Regions from separate parts of the Homo sapiens genome. Here region 1 is linked to region 2. Evidence: fine-mapped expression QTL. A gene starts in region 2. The other region holds a variant in brackets. All regions are shown on one strand. Distances are between the middles of the regions.

Region 1 (2,908 bases), 51 kb after region 2:
GACACACACACAGCAGACATCAATAAATGTTTATTGAATTGAAAAAGGAAAGTGAGACCACACAGTGGCCAAATTCAAGACCCAATTTTCTTTAAGCTATCCTGTATCAGTAAGGGAGAAAAAAAAAGACAGAGATAAAAGGCCGGGGCCAGGCACAGTGGCTCACGCCTGTAATCCCAGCACTTTGGGAGGCCAAGGCAGGCACATCACCTGAGGTCAGGAGTTCAAGACCGGCCTGACCAACATGGAAAAACCCCATCTCTACTAAAAATACAAAATTAGCCAGGCATGTTGGCACATGCCTGTAATCCCAGCTACTCAGGAGGCTGAGGCAGGAGAATCGCTTGAACCCGGGAGGCAGAAGTTGTGGTGAGCCAAGATCACACCATTGCACTCCAACCTGGGAAACAAGAGCAAAACTCCATCTAAAAAAAAAAAAGGCTGGGCATGGTGCCTCATGCCTGTAATCCCAGCACTTTAGGAGGCTAAGGTGGGAGGATTGCTTGAGTTCAGGAGATAGAGACCAGCCTGGGCAACATAGTGAAACCCCGTCTCTACAAAAAATTAGCCAGGTGTGGTGGTGCATGCCTATAGTCCCAGCTACTCGGGAGGCTGAGGTGGGAGGACACCTGAGCCCAGGAAGTCAAGGCTGCAGTGAGCCATGATCATGCCACTGCACTCCAGCCTGGGAAAGAGAAGAAGATCCTGTCCCCCCCCAAAAAAAAAGGCCGGGCACGGTGGCTCATGCCTGTGATCCCAGCACTTTGGGAGGCCGAGACGGGCGGATCACAAGGTCAGGAGATTAAGACCATCCTGGCTAACACGGTGAAACCCCGTCTCTACTAAAAATACAAAAAAATTAGCCGGGCGTGGTAGCGGGCGCCTGTAGTCCCAGCTACTCAGGAGGCTGAGGCAGGAGAATGGCGTGAACCCGGGAAGCGGAGCTTGCAGTGAGCCGAGATCGCGCCACTGCACTCCAGCCTGGGCGACAGAGCAAGACTCCGTGTCAAAAAAATAAAAACTAAAAAAAAAAAAAAAAAAAGAGGTAAGAAAATTCTCTTTCTTCACCAACACAATCTATCCCTCAGAAGCTCAGAAGCATCCCCACCCCAAGCACACCCTTGGTCTCCACCAAGTTGAGTTTGTGTGTTTTGGGGTGGGACCTCCATCATTCCTCTGAATCAGAACTTGAAATACCATCACTAGGCAAAAAGAACAAACTCTAGAGAAACTAGTGTTTCTGGATGGCACACGGGTAGCTTTCCCAGACCAGATTCATGCATTACTTCCATGTCTGCTCTGAATACCTACTTTGTGCCAGGTGTGGGATTACATACTGGGAAAAGAAAAAGGAGACCCTGGCCTTTGCCTTCAAGACACTCAGGACACTCCTGCCTGAACCTTGGCTGCATATTGGTAGCATGGAGAGATTCTGTTGAAGACGGATAGCAGGATGCCCCTCGCACCTCACAAATCAAAATATCTTAAGTGGAGCTGAGACACTTGTTTTTTTAAACCTCCACCGGTTAATTCGGATTCACTGGCAGGGTTGTAAGCCACTGATCTCTAGATCAGTGTTGTCTAACACAAATTTCTGTGATAATGGAAATGTTCAATTTCTGTGTCATCCAATCAGTAGTCACTAGCCATGTGTGGCTATTGAGCACTTGAAATATGAACTGAAGAA[T/C]TGAATTTTTTTCCTTAATCACTTTGAACTAAAACAGCCACACATGGCTAGTGGCTACTGTATTGGTCTACAAAAGTCTAGATGACACCAAATTATTTCAGTTTGGCTTTAGAATAATTCTCACAATGCTGTTTTATAGCAACTAAAGGCTCCATTCTCTACCACTCAGAGAAAAAAAAAAAACAATGACTTTCCTTTCCCTAAGGACACTCTCATTTGCACTGAAGAAACTGCTCTAGAATGAAGGGTAAAAGCCAGTCTGATGAGACTAAGTCTGATCAGCTACCTAAGCCCCTAGACCAGCTTCCAATCCTCCAGACTGGAAAAAAGGCACTCCTAAGTACCCTAGTTTGTTTATGGTTGACATTGGTTGGGGACAAAAAAAGCAGTGACATGACTTTGTGTGCCTGTTATAGACTGAATTATGCCCCCCTGCCGATTTGTATGTTGAAGCCCCAATATGACTATATTGGATATAGGGCATTTAAAGAGGCACCTAAGGTTAAATTGGGTAATAAGGGGGGACCTAATCCAGTACAACTGGTATCCTTCCAAGAAGAGAAACACCAGGGAGGTACATGCTCAGAAAAGGCTATGGGAGGACACAGCAAGAAGGCAGCTATCTGCAAGCTAAGGAGAGGCCTCAGGAAAGATCAAACCATCTTGATCCTGGACTTAACGGGCTCCAGAAGTGTCAGAAATTTCTGTTGTTTTAATCCACCCAGTCTGTGGTAGTTTTGTCATGGCAGCCCTAGCAGTGTAATACAGTGTCCTTAGGGAAAGGCAGGCCCAGGACCTTAATCAACCTCTCCGACAAGATGCACCCCAGGAATTGAAAGCAACAGCCCCACTAGGACCCAGACCCAGCAGCGACTCTGCCATACCCAGGCCTTCAAGTCATTCTGGTCACTACTGTTCAAGTGCCTCTGTGTATTACCCAATCCTATCCCACTATCTCATCACCTAGAGACCCCAACTCTAGGCTTTCAACCAGACCTGCTATGCCCCTAGATGTCCTCCCTATAGACTCATCCCCTCTCTTCCCATCCCTTTCCCCACTGCACCCACACTGCCTCCTACATGGTTTGCCCCTTCATCTCCTTCTATGGGTTTCCACCTATTGTTGGGTATTTTCAGTGTGTGTGTTCTGTGCATCTCACTTCCCCCACTACACTTTAAATTCTCAAAGATTATTCTAGCATTCAAGACCCTTCACAGGCT
Region 2 (2,908 bases):
ACACTGTGTGTCTCTCTGAGAAGTCTCCCCCAGGAGGTAAAAGACCCAAGGGGCTGACCCCTAAGCTGTTCAGCTTACATTTAAGGAAGAAAAACAATCTGCCTGCACTTTTCTTAGAATTTAGGGAAAAAATGAGAATTTAAAATTCAATTTCATGTATCAGAGTTCTCCAGAATACAGCCAAGTGTAAAGAACTTAGTCCCAAATGAAAAAGTTGAACAGAAATTCTGCTCTCACTCGTTTTGCCGGCTTGGAGGTCAGACTGGAGGTGTCCTGAACTAGAACCAGAGCATAGGTTCTGACCCAAGAAGGACACTGTCTACTTCCCAGGCATCCCTCCTTGGCTGGGAGGAGAGGGGAGGATGAGTCCGTTGGAAGCTGAGAATTGTGGAAGCTGGAGATGGGAGTTCTGAGATGGAGGAGGCAGGCGCGTGAAGGAGGTCAGGGAAAGGCAAGTAAATCTACTAACCATTGAAGTTTATAAAATAAAAACCTTAAAAATGGTTTAACATGCAAAAGGTTAAATTTTAAAAAGAGGCCAGGTTTTAAAGAAGGTAAAATACCTCAAATTTAAACAAATAAAAACGAGGAAAATACACAAAACATTTCAAGCAAATTGTTCTTCAGAAGAGGAGAGGTTGGAATTAATCAAAAGACCTTTTTTACACACACACACCCCCCAAGAGTTTCCCAAACAATAAATTCATTTACAAAACAAAAAGAGGAATCAACGCAAAACCTCATCCACACACAGAGGAAAATAAATTGTGGTGATTCTGTAACAGCTGAAAAACTAGTGAGGGAGGAGAAAAATGAATAAACTCTAAATCTATTAGGTGATATTTATAAATAGCAAAATTGGAGGATGGAATGGAGAAAGGAGTTGAACTTATCATTAAAGAAGTAACACATGTGAAAACATAAGGTGTAACTCATCCCCAAAGAAAAGTAAACTCTCCATAAAGTAGCAAGTATACAAATTTATTGAAAAGGAAGAAAGTACCACTCACCCCCCCCAATATAAGTGTATTAATTTGAATTAAAATTTTCTCCAAATCCAAGATAGGTTACACAAAAGAATACAAACATATTTTTTTTCTTTCAACTAAGAGGAAAAACAAAATCCGATTTAAATTCACGAATGGGACAGGAAGGGAGGCTGTGGTTTGCAGGTGCTAGTAAACGGGGTGAGGGTTGTGAAGAGTTTGAGGGGTAGAGGACCAGCTTACCTCGCTTTGGAGCCGCGGCGGCCAACAGGAGTGGGCCAAGGACCCTGCCAGTGCCTGAGTGATAGGGGAAATAAGGAATAGGGGATTCGGGTGCCCCTAGACGAATGAGGAGGATGGAAAGACTGGGGGTGCCCATCTCCCCTCCTCTGCCCGCCTCCCTCCCTCCGGTACCCAGGCCTAGAGAGCTACTGAAAGTTACAAATTGCTTCCATTATTAGCTCATCCCGGGCGGCCTGGTCATTGGCCAGCCCCTGGCCACGTGGTCCCTCGTACCAATCGATCGAATTCTAGTCGCAATTCTCTGTCTGTCCCTCGGCTCTGGGGAGAAAGGGGGGGCTGTGGCGTGGGGGCTGAGGAGGGGCTAAGGCGGGAGGGGCGCCTCATCCCTTCACCCTCCCTTTTCGCCATGTGGGGGCCCTGAGCGCCGCCCCAGAAGAGGTCGAGGGAATGTTGTGGGCTGGGGCACACCAGCACGGCAGAAACTGGAGAAAGCGAGAGACGTCGCCAGGGACCCAGGGACCTCTCCCTCCAGTTCCCCGGGCCCGCCCGGCCCTGATGGCCACTCACGCTATAGCGCCCACTCTGTCCTGGGCCATCCCGCGCCAGCAGTGTAGCCCCCAGCCCGGGCGCCTGAATGCTCTCCCTCCGGATCGCTGCTCGGGTCCCCACTTTGGCGACCGTGCCCCCGAGTCCTGCTTCCCCGGGGCCTGCTCTGTATCAGGCGCCTGCGCCTTCAAGGGTACCCGGCCCGCCTGCCCTCCCCAAGAGCCGAGTTTGCGCTCCTCCCGGAATCGTTTGAGAGAAGGACAAACTTTTGGCAGGATGGAAATCTAGATGAGCCTGTCCGGAGCAGGTAAGCTGGGCCCGGGACGGGTGCGATTCAGCCCGAGAACAATCTGTCTCTCCCCGTCCCGGTCTCTCCCTCCCCTTACCCCTGTTTCCCCTGCAGGCTGACATATTAATCTGCCTTCCCCCGGGAGAAATTTGGGCTGGGGTTGGGCTTCTGTCAGATGCATGGGGTCAGAGCAGCTTTCCTCCCCGAGTTTAGGGACTAAGGTGGTAGCTGGCAGGGGAGGGGGAGGGTTGCTTCCGAAACTGAGGATTGAGGGGAGGGTTAGGGGCCGAGAAACCCAGAGTCTGAGGGAGACGACTTCTTTCCTCAAACGCAACTTGGGGGAACTTCGGAAAAGTTTTTTGAGGGGAGATGGAGAAGGGAGCGGAGTTGGGGTTTCGAGGGCTAAAGTGGGAGAGAGGGTGCTCCGCTTCCCGTACTGAAGGAAGGATGTGTGTGCTTATTCCCCAGTCGGGACCGATTACCAGCCTAGAAAAACCCAGCCGCGTCCCAAACCCGCTCACCCCAGCAGGCCCTTAGAGACGCTTGGAGATCCCCAGACACGCCCCGCGGAAAGGGAAGGAAATGCCAGCCCGAGTTGCCGACTCTGCCGGGACGGGGCGGGGGATCCGCCCAGAGCGGTCCCCTGCTGTCCTGGGCCCTTACGTTGATTCTAAGTTAGGAGTGATCTGAGAGAGGGAATAACTCCCAAAAATCTTTTTTTTTTTTTTCTGAATCCAATTTGAGTCAGAGACCCATTTCCTTGAGATGGAGCCAAGCGAGTGCCCCCTCCCGCCTCCAGCACAATCTCCCGCTCTTCTCCAGTTCCCAAAGGAGGGCAAGGAAA

The links. PIP is the estimated chance that this variant, and not a neighbour inherited with it, causes the effect.
Region 1: its variant is the best candidate, but not a certain one, in a credible set for the expression of LINC02381 in left ventricle (GTEx, PIP 0.63).

The regions. Positions count from the first base shown.
Region 1 is chr12:54,175,799-54,178,706 of GRCh38, forward strand. It overlaps a transcript of SMUG1 not described here. Among named protein-coding and RNA genes, the nearest start is that of SMUG1, 12 kb to the right of the region's middle. The variant T/C (reference allele first, on the strand shown) is at 1,688.
Region 2 is chr12:54,124,531-54,127,438 of GRCh38, forward strand. It overlaps LINC02381 (long intergenic non-protein coding RNA 2381), which reads left to right and starts at 1,541. Exons shown (of 2, transcript NR_026656.1): 1 at 1,541-2,082. It overlaps FAM242C (family with sequence similarity 242 member C), which reads right to left and starts at 1,865. Exons shown (of 3, transcript NR_170197.1): 1 at 1,797-1,865; 2 at 1,230-1,283. RefSeq lists enhancers at 1,915-2,548, 2,549-2,908.